Homo sapiens: one gene and its partners. The protein of the gene in region 2 interacts with the protein of the main gene of each other region in a biochemical or structural test. Each region holds a gene or a part of one and is shown on either strand. Other genes may lie near its edges.

Region 1 (4,654 bases), on a different chromosome or scaffold from region 2:
AGCCTGATAATTGAGGTCTGTAGAGTGTCGACCACTCAATTGCATTTGAGCCTTTCAGTCTATTCTGATTTTCAGAGGAGCCACTTGAGATGGAGAGTTCAGGGCGCTGCCTGGGTTCTCAGGGCCGAAGTTCTTGGATGCCGTGCACCAGCGAGCACCCTCCCGTCTCATTCTGGCTGCCCCTGCCCCAGTTGTCTGGGGAGCTCGGTTTGGAGGGGAAGCCTGACCTTTTCCCCGAAGCAGATGGTTAGTCTGTACCAGGGGTAGGGGGTTTGGGGGCCGAGGGCCATGCCTGTGCCCTTTAATCAGGTATCTTAGAAGTGAACGGTGGGCCTCAGTGTGAGAATTTCTGCCTGTTGTTTAGAGACCAGGGCACACTGGAAGCCTCTTGCTAGCCATGTGGCTCCACCCCTCTGGGCCCCTCTTCCACATGAGACTCTGTCGGAATAATAAGAATTCTTTACTTGGTCTTGATGTGGAGCCGAGACAAGTGTCTCTGCAAGTGCGGGTCCATGGATTTTCTACAGATGCTGGCTTGGTGCTGCTCCTATCCCGTCCCCACTGTGGAGGGGCTCACTTAGCTTAGAGCTGTTGGTGGTGAGGGATGGGGAAGGGGTAACCTGGGTGAGTGCCCCAGGGCTGAGCCTTGGCAGCTTCAGCTCTGCCAGGCTGGCCGGCATCTCATCAGCTCTGCGGACGCTGGGACATAGTGCAAGGCCTGAGCCTGGCCCTGGCTCTGTCCCTGCCATGGCCGATGGCCTGAGGCAGGTTTTTTTTTTTCCCCCAACAGTTTTTATTGAGATATTCTGTACAGTTCATCCATTTAGAGTGTACAGCCAGGCGCAGTGGCTCACGCCTGTAAGCCCAGCACTTTGGGAGGCCGAGGCAGGCAGATCACTTGAGGTCAGGCATTCAAGACCAGCCTGGCCAACGTGGTGAAACCCCGTCTGTACTAAAAAAATGCAAAAATTAGGCCGGGCGTGGTGATTCATGCCTGTAATCCCAGTGCTTTGGGAGGCCCAGGCAGGCGGATCACAAGGTCAGTAGTTCGAGACCAGCCTGGCCAATATGGTGAAACCCCGTCTTTACTAAAAAAACACACACAAAAATTAGCTGGGTGTGGTGGCGCACTCCTGTAATCCCAGGTACTCAGGCTGAGGTGGGAGAATTGCTTAAAACCGGGAGGCGGAGATTGCAGTGAGCCGAGATCGCGCCGCTGCACTCCAGCCTGGGTGACAGAGCGAAACTCTGTCTCAAAAAAAAAAAAAAAAAAAATCAGCCAAGAATGGTGGTGCGCACCTGTAGTCCCCACTACTCGGGAGGCTGAGGCAGGAGATATGCTTGAACCCAGGAGCTGGAGGTTGCGGTGAGCCGAGATCGCGCCACTGCACTCCAGGCTGGGTGACAGAGAGAGACTCTGTCTCAAGAAAAAAAATAATAAATAAAGGGTACAATTCAGTGGTTCTTAGTGTATTCACAACGTTGTGGAAACATCACCACAATTGATTTTGGAACTTTTTTTTAATCACCCTTTCCTTTCAGGAACTTCGCCCAATCCCCGCCAGCTCCTGGAAGCCTGTAAGCTCTTTTCTGTCTCTATGGATTTGCCTGTTCTGGATGCTTCACATAGTTGGAGGCCTGCAGTGTGTGGTTCCTTGGGACTGGCTTTGCTGGCATGGCATGGGCAGCCTATCAGCCTGCTTGGTCTCCCACGGAGAAAGAGGCTGTGTGTGTGTGCTTGCCACGTCTCGGTGCTTTGCTCGCCACAGCCTTAGGCCGGAAATTGGCAGAGTCATGATAAATTTGGCGGTTGCCCCTTGAGATTATTCTGGTCCCAGGTACACCCAGATCAGGAAATCCATTCCCCCTCCCGCTTCCCTCAGCACGCTGGTGAGTCACCTTTGCTGAGCCTGAGTTTTCTCATCTGTGACATGGACACTTGGTGGTCGGCCTGTCGCATTCCTTGTCAAGCGGGCTGGGAAGTAGGGGATGGTCCCTTGAGGAGGTCTAGCATCTGGGCAGAAGTGGGGAGGTGGGGAGTTACCACTGTGCACACAGAGGTTCCCGGAGCAAGGAAGGGAAACAGTTGTATTTCCTTGTGAGGTGGTGGTGCCTTCGTCACTCTTGACACAGGGGAAAATACACACCCATTGCCTGCCCAGGGCGATCTTGCACTTTCCCCCACCTCCTGATTTAGGGACCCCGTAGGAGTGGCTGGGAGGGGCCGGAGTGGGAGTGATTTCACTTCGTCTAACGCCCTGACAGGTACGGCAGCCTCCTGCCTGGGAGGAGCTGGGGCCTTGTGAAAATGAGGTTTGCTTTTCAGCTAATACTTGTGAGCGTTTATTGCCAGGGCCAGGTTCCATGCTAGGTGCTGCCCTCAGGTGCCCATGGTAACCTAGGGGGAAGGTTCTAGAGGAAGCATTGTAGGGCCACGAGTGTGTACCTCCAGTGCTTCATTGCTGTGTCACAGAGATGCTTCCAGGCGGCAGGTCAGAACGCACAGCTCAGGGAGACAGGGAGACAGTGGTGGACAAAGGCGGGGCTGGGGGCTGCTTGAGCCAGGCAGGCCAGGGAAGGCCCTTCTGTGAGGTGAATGCTTAGTAAGAGATCTGAGGATGAGAAAGTGAGTTATTAGGACAAAGTCGCTGGGGTAGACCCAAGCTTAGTGTGTTCTGAAAACAGAAGGCCAGCTTGGCCAGGGCAAGTAGGGAGTGGGAGGTCATTGAGGGTCCCAGGCGCTGACCCGATGAGAGGGCGGTTCTGATTTTCCCTTCAGCAAGCTCTGCATGGCTGTGGGGAGAGGGAACGAGCAGGGGTCGCCTGCGGTCGAGTGTGGGGGGCCTGCCGTCAAGTGGTGGTCATGCAGGCAGAAGGGGTGGGATGGTTATGTTTGGGGAGGTCAGCGGTGCCTGGGTCGGGGTGGGAGGCCTGATAAGTCCCTAGATTTCTGGTGGTGCTGGGTTGGAGGAGAACTCAGGCCTCTGGCCGAACTGTGCTGTCACAGCTGGGCTGGGAGGGTCCTGAGGACCACAGCCCTCCATCCTGAATCCAGGGATGTCTGTTGAGTAAGCACTAGCAGCTGGGGACAAGGTGGACAGGGAGTTTACCATCCAGACAGGTCCCTTCAGGGTGGGCCTGGAAATGGCAGGCTCCTCCCTGAGGTGAGAGTCGGGGTCACTGTGGCCAGGGCTAGTCCCTCAGGCAGAGCAAGTGCTGGAGCCGGCTCAGCGGGAACTCGCTCATTCATCCCTTAAGTGTCCACTACACAGGCCCTGTGCTGGGACAAGGGCTCTGCACCCTGAAAATACAACTTCTGAAAGCTGAGAGTGCCAGCTTCACTGCCCGCCAACCCCTGGATCGGGGCATAGGCATTTACTTTGGTGTGCCTCAGTTTCCTCTCCTGTAAAATAAGGCCATTCCCTGGAGGGTGGTTGTGAGAGTTGGTGGAGGTGATGGCTGTGAAGTCCTTTTCAGAGTAGTCAGCGCAGTGCAGGTGCTGGAGCGCAGTGGCTGATACCATCGACATCATTGCCTGGAATGCCCCCATCCACCCAGACCCGCAGGGCCTCCTGGATATCCATCCAGCACTGTGCCTCAGGCAGCCACGGGCTGTGCAGGAGACACCTGAAGTGGCAGCCCCAGGAGCACTGGCGAGGTGGCATGGGGCACGGCCTCCCCAGGGCACTGGGGTCACCGTGGGCATGGAGGTCAGTCAGTGAGCTGGCTGGGCAGGGGCACGAGAGCCTGGATGCAGGCTTGGTGGAGTGCACATCACCGAGCAGGTGCGGGTACTCATGTTTGTGCTTTAAAAGGATTTTTTTTTTTTTCCGAGACAGAGTGTTGCTCTGCCACCCAGGCTGGAGTGCAGTGGCGCAATCTCGACTCACTGCAACCTCCGCTCCCGGGTTCAGGCAGTTCTCCTGCCTCAGCCTCCCGAGTAGCTGGGACTATAGGCACACACCACCATGCCCGGCTAATTTTTGTATTTTTAGTAGACACGGGGTTTCATCATGTTGGCCAGACTGGTGTCAAACTCCTGACCCCGGGTGATCTGCCTGCCTGGGCCTCCCAAAGTGCTGGGATTATAGGCGTGAGCCACCACACCCAACCTTAGAAGGAATATTGGGAGTCTGGGCATGGTGGCTCATGCCTGTAATCCCAACACTTTGAGAGGCCCAGGTGGGCGGATCACCTGAGGTTAGGAGTTCAAGGCCAGCCTGGCTAACGTGGTGAAATCCCATCTCTACCAAAATAGAAAAATTAGCCGGGTGTGGTGGCAGATGCTTGTAGTACCAGCTACTAGGGAGGTTGAGGCGGAAGAATCGCCTGAACCCGGGAGGTGAAGGTTGAGGTGAACCTAGATTGTGCCACTGCATTCCAGCCTGGGCAACAGAGTGAGACTCCTCAAAAACAAAGGATTATTGGGAAAAGTGGACTGGTGAGGGGTAAGTGGTGAGTCACTGGGTGCTGTGGACTGGGACCTGGCAGGCCCCCCAGAGGAGCAGGGGTTCAAATGCCTGGAGGCTGCTGCTATCTCCCCTAGTCCTCCTGCTGCCGCCATGACTGTCGTTGGTCACGGAACTCTTCCCTCTGCTCCACCCTCAACTGTCATTGGCCAGGTGTAGGGACCCATATAGTGTTATATCAAGAT
Region 2 (5,808 bases):
TATTGTCTTTGCATTATTACTGAATATTTGATTAGAAATGAATTTGGCACCTCTCACCTTTATAATAAAAGATTACTGGAATGACATTTCTGCTTTATAATTTGGTTAACTTTGGCCAGTTTTTCACTATGAGCACTGAGCTTTGTAAAGTCCCACTTTGTGAAAAGAAGGGTTTAGTGACTTTACAAACTAATTTAGCTTCCCAGAGAGCCATTTGAATTAAGACCCTATTAATTTTTTTCTGACCTTATTCTACCCAAGGTATTAATCTTATTTTGCTGCTCAGTTTCTCTTTTGGGGAACTGGAGGGAGATATAGGAGAGGAGGGACTTTGACAACCTATATTTGGTAGAAACTAGGTTATGTTAAATCTGGATATATAGTCCTGTGCAGGGAGGCCTTCTCCGAAATGCAGTGACATCACACTCTGGTCGAGGGCAAGTAAGAGTGATTATGTGCTTTGACTCTGGCAGCTTTGTTGTTTAACAGTGGCCTTAGGCCATACCGTAAATCCTCAGAACAGCCGTTACTTGTCTGGTTTGATCTGGTAGAAAGGTAGTGTGAGTTCAAATTCCATCATGGCTTTGCTTATTTCTCTGGCTCTTCTGAAGGAACATTTTCTCCCCCCATAGGAGCAGCTTGATTTTTGAGGCACTTCAGCAAATATTAGATTTTTTTTTTCTTTAGCTCTATTTTGTTTACTTTTTCTGTAACTTCTTTTTTTTTTTTTTTTTTTGAGACGGAGTCTCACTCTTTCGCCCAGGCTGGAGTGCAGTGGCGCGATCTCGGCTCACTGCAAGCTCTGCCTCCTGGGTTCACACCATTCTCCTGTCTCAGCTTCCCGAGTAGCTGGGACTACAGGCGCCCGCCACACGCCTGGCTAATTTTTTGTATTTTTAGTAGAGACAGGGTTTCACCGTGTTAGCCAGGATGGTCTCGATCTCCTGACCTTGTGATCCGCCCGCCTCCCAAAGTGCTGGGATTACAGGCGTGAGCCACCGCGACCGGCTGTAACTTCTAATGAAGACGTCAGTTTTTGCCATCCTGTATTTTGGAGACTCTGGCTATGTCCATATCTAGCATGTGATTAAGTGTATCTCTCATTATATGAGGTGAGAACTCATTATATGAGAGATACACTGAATCATATATATATGTGATTTTTTTTTGAGGTGAAATTCACGTACCATAAAATTAACCAGGTTAAGGCATACAGTTCAGTGGCATTTAGTACACTGACAGTGTTGTGCAACAATCATGTCTTCTGATTTGTTTTTATTTACACTATTTTCATTTTTCTTGGAGTTTCTTTTGGCTTAAGGCAAGAACCAGCTTGGCACCATGTTTCTCTGCCAATATGGTTAGGGAATATTTTGTTACTATTGTTTACAATATGGTTACTAGAGTGATATCCCTTCTCTTTAGAGCAGCAGGGACTCTTAATTTAGAATCTATCTTATAGGCTTCTAAAGATACTTGACCCTCCTCTCTTCCCTGAAATTTTGTGGGTGGGTGCATTATTTTCTAGTTAAGACAAGAACACTTAATGCTCACAGTGAACAGGATAGTAATATATTCCTTGACATTGAAATTGTTAGGGGAGATAATGAAATATGTGAGCTACTGATAAAGGTATGACTTAAGACTTAGGTTAATTTATTGTTTAATAGAATGTAGTGAAAATGCCTGTTAAGAATTTACTCATGCCTGTAATCCCAGCACTTTGGGAGGCCGAGGTGGATGGATAACTTGATGTCAGGAGTTCCAGACCAGCCTGGCTAACAAGGAAAAACCCTGTCTCTACTAAAATACAAAAATTAGCTGGGCGTGGTAGTGGGTGCCTGTAGTCCCAGCTACTCTGAAGGCTAAGGCAGGAGAATCACTTGAACCTGGGAGGCAAAGGTTGGAGTGAGCCCAAATTGAACCACTGCACTGGAGCCTGGGCCACAGTGAGATTTTGTCTCAAAAAAAAAAAAAAAAAAAAAAGAATTTAATGGGCTGGGCACGGTGATCCCAACATGTAGTCCCAGCTACTCGGGAGGCTGAGGCAGGAGGATTGCTTGAGCCCAGAAGGCAGATGTTGCAGTGAGTCCCAGCTGGGACTACAGGCATGTGCTACCATGCCCGGCTAATTTTTGTATTTTTATTAGAGACGGAGTTTCGCCACGTTCCCCAGACTGGTCTCGATCTCCTGAGCTCAAGCCATCCGCACGCCTCGTCCTCCCAAAGTGTTGGGATTACAGGCGTGAGCCACCGTGCCTGGCCAAAAAAAATTTAATATGTGTATGTATAAGAGGCTTTTCAGAGAAATTGGGTGACAAATTCTAAGGAGGTTTTGTTTTAAAATCTTAAACAAGTTTTAAAGGACATAGCATAGCATAGTAAATATCCTAGACAGATTGTAATGGATTTGAGCTATAGTCCTTCTTTGAGGCTCAAGTAATCGTTTCTGTTTACTGGTTTTTCTGTTTGTATATATACATTCATAAATAACTTCAGATTTATTCCAGGTCTTTTATGTGAAGAATTCCTTTCTTCATTTGCCCACTTCACATTTAGTTTACATTATGAATGGACTAAATGATTATAACATTCTTTGAATTTTTGCTAGAAACACATTGTAAAAACATTGCATAAGGCAAGCTTCAGTATAATTTTTAATTATAACAAGTATTAAAGGAGAAATTTCTATATTCTGTAATGATATTTGTGAGTCCTAGCTCACTTCTTTTAACAAGATCATTCTGTGAATTTCTGGTACAATCTAAAGAGCTATTAGGATCAAGACTATAAATAGTAATTAGCTGGTTGGAAAGATAGCAAATGAGTCTAATTTCCATTAAACTGTACAAGTAGCACGTTTTAGAGATCAGATTTGAACCAGAAGTTTTTCATTATTTTATGTTTATCTGGCTCTTTTTTCTTTTCTTTAATTACATTGATTTGTTTGGTGCTTAGGTCTTTTCTCCTAGATCCATATTTACTATTGTTTGCCAAATACATTATGTCATATTGACCTGATAATAATGAGCAGGTGCCAGCATGTCTTGTCCTGAAGTTGGTGATAAGTATTATTAGTGATGGTGATAAGGAAAAAGATACTCATTTTGAGTACAGAAGGAATATTATTAAAAAATATATGTATATTTATATATTTTTTTCCCCTTGAGACAAGGTCTCTGTCGCTGAGGCTGGAGTGCAGTGGTGAGATCATAGCTCCCTGTAGCCTTGATCTCCTAAGCTCAAGCGATCCACACACCTCAGCCTCCCAAGTAGCTGAGACTACAGGTACATGCCACCATGCCTGAGCCACCGCGCCTGGCCCAAATTCCTATTTATTTATTTATTTATTTGAGATGGACTTTTGCTCTGTTGCCCAGGCTGGAGTGCAGTGGCGTGATCTCGGCTTACTGCAGCTTCCGCCTCCCAGGTCCAAGCGATTCTCCTGCCTCAGCCTCCCAAGTAGCTGGGATTAAAGGCACGTGCCACCATGCCCAGCTAAATTTTGTATTTTTAGCAGAGACAGGATTTCACCATGTTGGCGAGGCTGGTCTTGAACTCCTGACCTCAAGTGATCCACCCGGCAGCCTCACAAAGTGCTGGGATTACAGGCGTGAGCTACTGTGCCTGGCCCCAAAATTTTAATATATTTAAAGAAGTCTGGTACATTGGACAAAGTCTTATAGTTTCTCAAATCAGAAAAAGTAGTCTTATTATTTAGTAAAAATGTGACCAGACTGTGCCGTTTTTGTTAGTAGAGCCATTTGTCATCTGGATTACTTCTTCTGGAAATTGGGATGGAAGAGTTAAGGTTGAGGTTGAGATCCACGTTCTTTTGTTTCAACACCAGTTTGATTCTCGTGTCTGAACGGATGTCTCAGTCTTTTGCCTTGTTTTTAACTATAAACTGGCATTATTTGGGAATACTCTTGGGCTAAATCTGGATTGTTGGAAGTAAGAAAGCCACATTTTTTTTTAAATCCAAAAATATAGTTAGATACAATGAATAAGATCTAGTATTTGATAGCACAAAAGGGTGACTGCGGTCAACAATAATTTACTGTACATTTAAAAATAACTAAAAGAATGTAATTGAATTGTTTATAATACAAAGAAAGGATAAATGCTTGAGGTGATGGATATCCCATTTACACTAATGTAATTATTATGCATTGTCTGCCTGTTATCAAAATATCTCATGTACCTATACGCACCTACTAAATACCCACAAAACTAAAAATTAAAAAAATTCCATGCATAAGTCATGGTTGCCTCTCTAGATGTTTGTTGTGAAAGAATATTGTCCTACTAATTTTGAATTTTTTTTTTCTGAAAGAGATTCTTTTTATTGAAAGTTTCATGTCATAGATCGGCAAAATTGTTTTTTCTTTTGACCTTACACTGCTTCAGAATATATGTTTTGGAGTGATTCCAGCTTGAGGCAAGGAAGTTACCAGATTTTCCTGAATGGAAAGTAATTGCAGATATATTTATAAAAAGGTCCAGCTTTAGCTCTTGAAAGCTTTGAGGAGTTACTGTGGATAAAATCACAAAGCCATAATAGGTTCATACTTTTACCCAGTTGCATTTGGCCTTTAGATTTTTGCCCCATTAGCTTGAGGAGTTACATTCTTAGTTTTTCTTGAACCATCAACGGTGGTGATAAAGGAAGATGATACTCATTTTTAGAAATTCTTAAATATAAGTGTTCCTAAAATTAATTGGATGTTCTTAAAATTAATTGGATGCCTTGTTGGATATCTATAACCTGAATGAAGGAATTCTTTTCTCTTGCTATAGGTGCACATTAAAGATCCAAAGTCATGACTGACTCCAAGTATTTCACAACCAATAAAAAAGGTAAGTATGAGAATACAATCAAATCTTTTGAAATTTTCAAAAGTTGTAGTGTAAGATTGCCCCAGGCAGAATGCTGCTGACCTCTTCCTTCAGACATACATGTAGCTGACAATCTCACTGGACATCTACTACTTCTATAGATGAATGTATTCAAGCAAGTTATTAAAGAGTAGGTTTTAAAAGAGAGGGCTGTGATGCACATTATTATGACTTGAAGGTTCTGTTTAGTGAAAGAGACTCCTCTTTGCTGTTTGAGATGATCCATTGGAGATTGGTTAAGTGTGAGGAGGACAAAAGAAGCAGCATACTTTTTCCCTTTTATTAAATAATTTTTACTTGGAAATAAACATTTTATAACAAAGAATACAATTAAAGCAATACAGATATGTATGTAAAAGGTAAAAATGAAAGTTCTCCCTTCCTGTTCCTATTCCCAAGGGAACTTGGTGTATATCCTCAAGTCTTTTTCTCTGCATATGAGTGCATATATTAATACATATGATTTAAAATTTTTTTATCTTTAATGAAAAAGCAATCTTGCAAAACAATGAATAGAAATGAGTTATTTTCATATCCGTCCATATACATCTACCATGTTCTTCGTCTAGATGTATATTTAAAACGGAATCTCTAGAGCCATCTATGGTTTTTAGGTCATAGACGGAATTACTTGAGGGACTTTGCACTTATTACTCTCATCATCTTTGTTATCAGTAATATAATGCTTGTTTTTACCTATGAGTTTGGGTCTAGGAACAAAGGATTCTTCTGGGGAAAGTCCAACCCTTCATCTTTTGTAAAATTGTTCCTAAATAAAATAGATCATTTCTAGAAATGTGGAGGGTCTTCCCATCAAAGACAAACATTTTAGCCCATCTCAGCTTATTGTGCCTGTAGCTTAGCTTGCTTTATTTGTTGCTTAGGATCAGAATTCTGTGCTTTTGTGTT
Region 3 (4,654 bases), on a different chromosome or scaffold from region 2:
CATCTTCCAGACCCTCCCCATCTGCCCCCTCCTTTGGGCTCCCTTCGCTAGGACAGGAGAAGACAGCCAGTGAGATGTAGGTCTGTGAGAAATGACCAATGGGGAAAAGGAAGGAGATGGCAAAGTTCTTAGGGCAAGGCAGTGGGAGGGCTCAACTGGTAAGTGTTATCCAAGGAGAAGAGAGTCCACAAAAACTGGTGGAAACAGAGGACCAGGGGGTCAGAGCAGAAAGAAGAGCACTAAATCCCAGGGCGAATTAATCATTCATTAGAAAAATATCTGCTGAGGCCAGGCGCAGTGCTGATTACGGTCTCATGCCGGTAATCCCAGCACTTTGGGAGGCCGAGGTGGGCGGATCACCTGAGATCAGCAGTTCAACATCAGCCTGGCCAACATGGTGAAACCCTGTAGCTACTAAAAATGCAAAAATTAGCTGGGCATGGTGGCGCACCTGTAATCCCAGCTACTTGGGAGGCTGAAGCGGAAGGATCACTTGAACCCAAGAGGCGGAGGTTGCAGTCAGCCAAGATCATGCCACTGCACTCCAGCCTGGGTGACAGAGCAAGACTCCGTCTCAAAAAAAAAAAAAATCTGCTGAGCACCTACTTTGTGTGGCTACTGTTCCAGGCCCTGGGGGAAACACAAAGCAAAAGAGATAAAGCAACTGCTCTCGTAGAGCTTTCATTCTAAAGAAAGACAGAAAATAAGTAAGTTACAGAAAGAATATATATGTGTGTATATATATATATATATATCTCCAACTAGATATATAGATGCATATATCTAGTTGGAGAAAATGAGCAGGTGTTGGGGAGGATGGGGGCGGTGCTGAGAGCAAAGTCACTGAAGAAAGAGGCCAGAATCTCAGGGCCAAAAGAAGAGGAAGTCATAGGGGTCCAGGCAGCAGGGAGGGGAACATAAGCAGTAGGAGAAGAGAAAAACCCTCCCCTTTCTCTTTACAACCAGATCCTCATGTGTGTGTGACGTGGGTTGGACGGGGCCAGAGTGTGAGGCAGAGCTAGGGGGCTGCATCTCTGCACCCTGTGCCCATGGGGGGACCTGCTACCCCCAGCCCTCTGGCTACAACTGCACCTGCCCTACAGGCTACACAGGTGAGACCCTCCCTAAACCATATACACCCTGTGCTGGTCACCCCCTATGTCAAGGGTAAGGCAGGCGACCACGGGCCCTGAGTCTCAGTCACCACTAAGGAGAACTGGACTGCAGGGGACACGGGTGATGTGTGGGAGGTGGTGAGAACGGAGGTTGATGGGAAAGAATAATAGGGTTGGGGATGAGGAAGGGAAGGAAGAGGAAAGAGAAGGAGAGCGGAGGGAGGGAAGGAGGACACCCTTTCTCAGCCCCCACCTGTTTCCTTCAGGACCCACCTGTAGTGAGGAGATGACAGCTTGTCACTCAGGGCCATGTCTCAATGGCGGCTCCTGCAACCCTAGCCCTGGAGGCTACTACTGCACCTGCCCTCCAAGCCACACAGGGCCCCAGTGCCAAACCAGCACTGACTACTGTGTGTCTGGTGAGTGCCCACTGTGTCATGGGGCTGGGGTCCACAGGAGAATGGAAGAACTAAGGAGGGTATGCTTGTGTCATATTTTTTAAAATTTAATTGAACAGACCAGCCTGGGAAACATAATGAAACTCCATCTCTAAATTAGCTGGGCACACAGTGGCTAAGGCCTGTAGTCTCAAATACTTGGGAGGCTAAGGTGGGAGGATGACTTGAGCCCAGAAGGTTAAGACTGCAGTGAGCTCTGATGGCACCACTGCCTGGGTAACAGAGCAAGACCCTATCTAAAAACAATAAAATATCATATAAATAAAAATTAATTGGATGGCAGTGAGCTGTCGTTTTGATGGGGGTGGGGGGTGTATGTCCTATGTACAGTGTGACTGAGGTCACAGGCCAGGTTACAGGCAAGGAACCCAAACCCTCACAGCCTCCTCTCTCCAGCCCCGTGCTTCAATGGGGGTACCTGTGTGAACAGGCCTGGCACCTTCTCCTGCCTCTGTGCCATGGGCTTCCAGGGCCCGCGCTGTGAGGGAAAGCTCCGCCCCAGCTGTGCAGACAGGTGAGCAGGGCCCAAAGACCCCTAGAAGGGAGAAAACCCCTCAGCCTTCCCACCCCTCCTCTCATCTCCCCCTGGGTTCCAGGCTGCCTCCCACCCCACACCTCGTTCCGCCTTCCCTCCTGGCTTGCCACCTCCCTGTGGTTGCCTCCCGACAATATCACACACTACCTTCCCCTTGTTGCCCGAACTTCTTCCTATCATGCCCTGTCTCTGTCTTGTTCAGCCCCTGTAGGAATAGGGCAACCTGCCAGGACAGCCCTCAGGGTCCCCGCTGCCTCTGCCCCACTGGCTACACCGGAGGCAGCTGCCAGGTGAGGGCCATTGAAGTCAGGCGTGCTGAGGAGGGAAGTGGCTGGGAGGGAAACCAGGGAGGGTCACCTGGTCCCAGGCCATTCAGGAGAAGGTTTTTGAAGTAAGGGATTTCGAGGAGCTGGAGTGGGCAGAGGACCATCTCTGGGCTGAGAATCTGATGCTATGTCCTGCCTCACGCTCCCTCCCACCCCTCAGACTCTGATGGACTTATGTGCCCAGAAGCCCTGCCCACGCAATTCCCACTGCCTCCAGACTGGGCCCTCCTTCCACTGCTTGTGCCTCCAGGGATGGACCGGGCCTCTCTGCAACCTTCCACTGTCCTCCTGCCAGAAGGCTGCACTGAGCCAAGGTAACCAACGCCGGCACTGACTGGAGAGCAAATGAAGAAAATATGGGTGTTCTCACCTGCCCCGTTCCTGTGGGCTTCCACACAGCTTTTGGCCAAAACAACCATCTGAGAATCAAAACCACACAGACAAATCAGTTCTTGATTGCAGAGGTGTTGAATTGTGCAATCAGAGAAGCCTAACACAATTCCTGTTACCTCATTTAACGCAATTCAAGCAACACCAACCAGCCCATTCCACAGGATTCCAGTTTAACCCAACCATGAGGGACATGACTCAACGTGGAGCAACTCAACTCTGTCCTGATCATCATAACCCAGGCAGAGTGGACCACACTTAATCCAGCTACACTCAACGCATTTCACCCCACCCCACTCACTTCGATGTCACGCCACCCTCTTTGTAAAAGAACACTAAAATAAGGTTTGATATGAGAAGAGCTCGGGAAAGAGATTATGATGGAGTTAAGGGATAGCTGATGGGAATCACAGGGAGAGAACATTAAAGGAATGCAGAACTCAGGGGACAGACTTAAGCCACTTGTCCTCACTTGAGGCATACCTTGAATTATTTCTTGCTCAAGCCTTGCTTTAAGCCAAGAAAACAGTTGCTTTAACATTATGATAAGCTTTAGGGGTATGTCTCCAATATTCTGGCAGAAAGGGTGAGGAGAGAGGTAAAACTCGATGGTCTAATTTCTTCAGTGCCAGGAGTTATTAACTCCTTGGGCCCAGACCAGTCTCCACCCAGGAATGTTAGTGGTCCCCAAGGTAAAGGCCTCTACACCCAGAGATTGGGCCCTGAATACACCCTTCCTCCTCCTCACATACCTTATTTATTTATTTATTTATTTATTTATTTATTTATTTATTTATTTATTTTTGAGATGGAGTCCCAGTCTGTCACCCAGGGTGGAGTGCAGTGGCACGATCTCGGCTCACTGCAACCTTCACCTCCTAGGTTCAAGTGATTCTCCTGCCTCAGCTTCCCAAGTAGCTGGGATTCGTGTGCCACCATGCCCAGCTAATTTTTTTTTTTTTGTATTTTTAGTAGAGATGGGGTTTCATTATGTTGGCCAGACTGGTCTCGAACTCCTAACCTCAGTGATCCACCCGTCTCAGCCTCCCAAAGTGCTGGAATTACAGGTGTGAGCCACCACGCCCGGCCACATCCCCATTTACCGTTTCTGTTTGTTTGTTTGTTTGTTTGTTTGTTTGAGATGGAGTCTTGCCCTATAGCCCAGGCTGGAGTGCAATGGCACGATTTTGGCTCACTACAACCTGCGCTGCCCAGGTTCAAGTGATTCTCCTGCCTCAGCCTCCCAAGTAGCTGGGATTACAGGTGCCTGCCACAACGCCCGACCAATTTTTTGTATTTTTAGTAGAGACGGGGTTTCCCCATGTTTGCCAGGCTGGTCTCACACTCCTAACCTGGTGATCCACCTGCCTCGGCCTCCCAAAGTGCTGGGATTACAGGCGTAAGCCATGGCGCCCGGCCCCCCACTTATCTTTGTATATCCCTGTTTGTCTCTCTCCCCAGGCATAGACGTCTCTTCCCTTTGCCACAATGGAGGCCTCTGTGTCGACAGCGGCCCCTCCTATTTCTGCCACTGCCCCCCTGGATTCCAAGGCAGCCTGTGCCAGGATCACGTGAACCCATGTGAGTCCAGGCCTTGCCAGAACGGGGCCACCTGCATGGCCCAGCCCAGTGGGTATCTCTGCCAGGTGAGAGGGTCTGCAGGAGAAGGGGGAGGAAAGACAAGGGTGGGCTGGATGGGAGAGACAGTAGTGACTGAGGGAAGACCCAATGTATCCATTTCACCTCCTTTTATTTTTTTTAACCCCACACACCCAACTAACCACAAAGTCATGCCACTTTATCTCCTGAAGTTTTCTCAAGTCTGTGCTT
Region 4 (3,443 bases), on a different chromosome or scaffold from region 2:
GTGAGAACCCATCTCAAAAAATAAATAATTAATTTTAAAAATATATATATATATATAGCATTAGCCATTTTGTTTTTGGACAAAATACAGCATTGCTAAATGTGTGGGGAACATGACAAAATTAAAACAACATACCTGATCTAACATGCCCAGACAGACTAGGAGGCATTGTTAGGATGTGTAGGCGGTTTTTTCATCTTTGTGTAAACCTGTTTTTTTTTTTTTGACATGTTGTTCTCATACTTTGTCCCAGGAGTGAATGTTGAGAAATTTAGAAACTTAGTGTGCTTTAAATTCAGGAAGCCAAACTACCCTGTCTGACTTCTCTGTGCAGATGATGGACTTCCAAAACCAGAACTAATATCCTGGATTGAACACGGGGGAGAGCCCTTCAGGAAATGGAGAGAATCACAGAAATCAGGAAACATAATTTGCTCCTCTGTTGATATGCATTTTGATCCAGGTTTTGAGGAACAGCTGTTTTGGGGTGAGTATTAAGAAATCAGGGCCCCGACCTTGAGACATCATGTTCAGATTTGTTTCTCTTCTCTGATCTTGTCATCCTGTTTGGGCAAGCTGAGGTTTGAAGACTCTTATCTTCTAGATAAAGGCAGTAAAGCATAATGGTTAGGAATGTGGGTTCTAGAGTCTGTGTCTGGATCTTGCTTTTTCTTGGTGACCTTGGGCAAGTTATTGAACCTTTTGGTATTTCAATGCCTGATCTATAAAATGAAAGTACCCATGTTAACAGGATTGAATTGGTTAATATATATAGTGTTAGGCCAGGCATGGTGGCTCAGGCCTGTAATCCCAGCACTTTGGGTGGCCGAGGCGGGCAGATCACTTGAGGTCAGAAGTTCCAGACCAGCCTGGCCAACATGGTGAAACCCTTACTCTACTAAAAATACAAAAAAATTAGCCGGGCATGGTGGCAGGTGCCTGTAATCCCAGCTACTCAGGAGGCTGAGGGAGAAGAATTGCTTGAACCTGGGAGGCAGAGCTTGCAGTGAATGAGCTGAGATTATGCAACTGCACTCCAGCCTGGGCGATGGAGCAAGTCTCAGTCTCAAAAAAAAAACTATATATATATACATATATATATATATATATATATATATATATATACACACACACACACACACACACACGCACACATATACACACACACGTGTATATACATATGTATATAAATGTATACATAAATATATGTGTATATATGTATACATATATATGTGTATATATATTGAGAGACAGTTTATATAGTAAGAACTCAGTAGAAACTGGTTATCCAGTTTGTTTGGTTTTTAAGACACAGGATCTTGCTCTGTCACCCAGGCTGGAGCACAGTAGCATGATCATAGCTCACTGCAGTCTTGAACTCCTGGCTTCCAGCAGTCCTGGCCTCAAGCAGTCCTCCCACCTCAGCCTCCCAAAGTGTTGGGATTATAGGTGTGAGCCACCATGCCTGGCCCATGGTTATCCAGATCTTCATGACTAACGTGGCTTCCTTCCTAACTAGAGACTGTTGTCTACTTGAATACTTCAACCTGAGCTCCTCTCTTTCATTTCTTGTCATGAGGAGAGAGTCTGAGATTTTTGGATTCTTAAAGTACAGAATGAAAAAGTCAAACAGGAGCATCATTTCAAGAAATCTTGTCAAATAGTTTTTGTTTTTAGGTGCTTCTTTCGAAAGTGAAGGTTTTTCCCCCACAAATTACTTAACTTTCTACCATCTATTAATTATTCCAAGAAACCTTCTTGAAACATTGGCAGAAATGGGGGCAGGGAGGGAGGAATAGGCCCAAGCCTTGCTGCCAGGTCTTAGAGACAGGATGGCTCAAGGATCACGTATAACTGTGGTATTGGTCAGGGCTCCAGCTCGGGACTCCAGGTGTGTCTGTACATCAGAATGCGATACACTGGCTTTCCTGAAGTCATGAGAACAGCCAACACTTAAACAGAGTACATGCACTATGCCAGGCACCATGCTAAGCACCTCATGCACATTAGCTCATTTAATTCTCACAGTAATCTTATGTACTTTTGTTTCCATGTTTTTACAGAAGGAGCTGAAGTCAAAAGAGATTAGCTTGACAAAGGTTACACAGTGGACAGATAGGATTCAAAACTAGGCAGACTGATTCCAGAGCTTACACTCTATATTTGCGACCTATATTTTCCTTTTTTCAATATTATCCAAAGATATGTCTGTTCAGTTTAGTTTCAGCAGACTCACCAAACTCACGGCCATGAGACAGATCACACTGCATGGTTGGGTAGCTCAGTGGAAGCTGGGTTCCCAGGCCACCACAAGGCACTCTTGTGGGTCACTTGACTGTGAGAATCGCTAGTAGTGCTGCAGACAGGAATACCGACTGAATTTTTGTTTTCAATTGCAGGAAGCCAGCAGGCTATGAATTCAGGAAAAACTAAAAGCCATTTCCAATTAGATCCTGAAAGCCAGTGTTCCTTTGGATCCTTTGTTTCCTTCAGGCCTGACCAAGGCATCACCCTCGGGAGCCCACAGAGACACGACGCCAGGGCTCCTCCACCACTAGCCTGCGGCCCCAGTGAATCTACCCTAAAAGAAGGAATCCCAGGTCCCAGAAATCTGGATCTTCCTGGTTTGTGGGACGTCCCCGCCTGGGAGAGCACCCAGCACCCTTGGCCTGTCTGCGGGGAAAGCTGTTGGGAGAACAACCATTTAGTAATGCACCAGAGAGGCCACTCAAAGGACCGGACACGTAGGGCCTGGGAGAAATTCAACAAGAGGGCGGAGACGCAGATGCCGTGGAGCAGCCCTCGGGTACAGAGGCACTTCCGGTGTGGCGTGTGCGGTAAGAGCTTCCGCCGGAAGCTGTGTCTGCTGCGCCATCTGGCGGCCCACACGGGGAGGGGCCCCTTCCGGAACGCTGACGGTGAAATGTGCTTCCGACACGAGCTGACCCATCCCAGCCACCGCCTCCCGCAGCAGGGGGAGAAGCCTGCCCAGTGCACCCCATGCGGCAAGCGCTCCCTCCCAGTGGACAGCACGCAGGCTCGCCGGTGCCAGCACAGCCGGGAGGGGCCGGCCTCTTGGAGAGAAGGCCGCGGGGCCTCCAGCAGTGTGCACTCGGGACAGAAACCAGGCTCGCGCCTGCCCCAGGAGGGGAACAGCCACCAGGAAGGGGACACGGAGGCGCTGCAGCATGGCGCAGAGGGGCCCTGCTCCTGCTCGGAGTGTGGCGAGCGCTCCCCTATGAGCGCCAGGCTCGCCAGCCCCTGCAGGGCGCATACTGGAGAAAAGCCCTTCCAGTGTGCGCATTGCACCAAGCGCTTCCGCCTGCGCCGCCTGCTGCAGGTCCACCAGCACGCGCACGGTGGGGAGAGACCGTTCTCCTGCAGGAAGTGTGGCAAGGGCTTCGCCAAGCAGTGTAAACTCACGGAGCACATTCGAGTCCACA

Evidence for each region. The genes of interacting proteins can lie anywhere in the genome.
Region 1: the proteins of AP2B1 (region 2) and PPP6R1 interact in a surface display test, tested with the Homo sapiens proteins (one large-scale study listed by IntAct).
Region 3: the proteins of AP2B1 (region 2) and NOTCH4 interact in a surface display test, tested with the Homo sapiens proteins (one large-scale study listed by IntAct).
Region 4: the proteins of AP2B1 (region 2) and ZNF786 interact in a surface display test, tested with the Homo sapiens proteins (one large-scale study listed by IntAct).

Annotation. Positions count from the first base shown.
Region 1 is NC_000019.10:55,249,018-55,253,671, reverse strand, and holds part of PPP6R1 (serine/threonine-protein phosphatase 6 regulatory subunit 1), read left to right. Parts: intron 1-80; exon of another isoform or gene 81-243; coding exon of another isoform or gene 244-246; intron 247-1,542; coding exon of another isoform or gene 1,543-1,578; intron 1,579-4,654. UniProt on the Homo sapiens protein: Regulatory subunit of protein phosphatase 6 (PP6). May function as a scaffolding PP6 subunit. Involved in the PP6-mediated dephosphorylation of NFKBIE opposing its degradation in response to TNF-alpha.
Region 2 is NC_000017.11:35,589,208-35,595,015, forward strand, and holds part of AP2B1 (AP-2 complex subunit beta), read left to right. Parts: intron 1-4,800; 5' UTR 4,801-4,823; coding exon 4,824-4,860; intron 4,861-5,808. UniProt on the Homo sapiens protein: Component of the adaptor protein complex 2 (AP-2). Adaptor protein complexes function in protein transport via transport vesicles in different membrane traffic pathways.
Region 3 is NC_000006.12:32,210,568-32,215,221, reverse strand, and holds part of NOTCH4 (neurogenic locus notch homolog protein 4 preproprotein), read left to right. Parts: intron 1-966; coding exon 967-1,112; intron 1,113-1,381; coding exon 1,382-1,534; intron 1,535-1,969; coding exon 1,970-2,087; intron 2,088-2,310; coding exon 2,311-2,398; intron 2,399-2,594; coding exon 2,595-2,748; intron 2,749-4,285; coding exon 4,286-4,470; intron 4,471-4,654. UniProt on the Homo sapiens protein: Functions as a receptor for membrane-bound ligands Jagged1, Jagged2 and Delta1 to regulate cell-fate determination.
Region 4 is NC_000007.14:149,071,430-149,074,872, reverse strand, and holds part of ZNF786 (zinc finger protein 786), read left to right. Parts: intron 1-334; coding exon 335-487; intron 488-2,399; coding exon 2,400-3,443. UniProt on the Homo sapiens protein: May be involved in transcriptional regulation.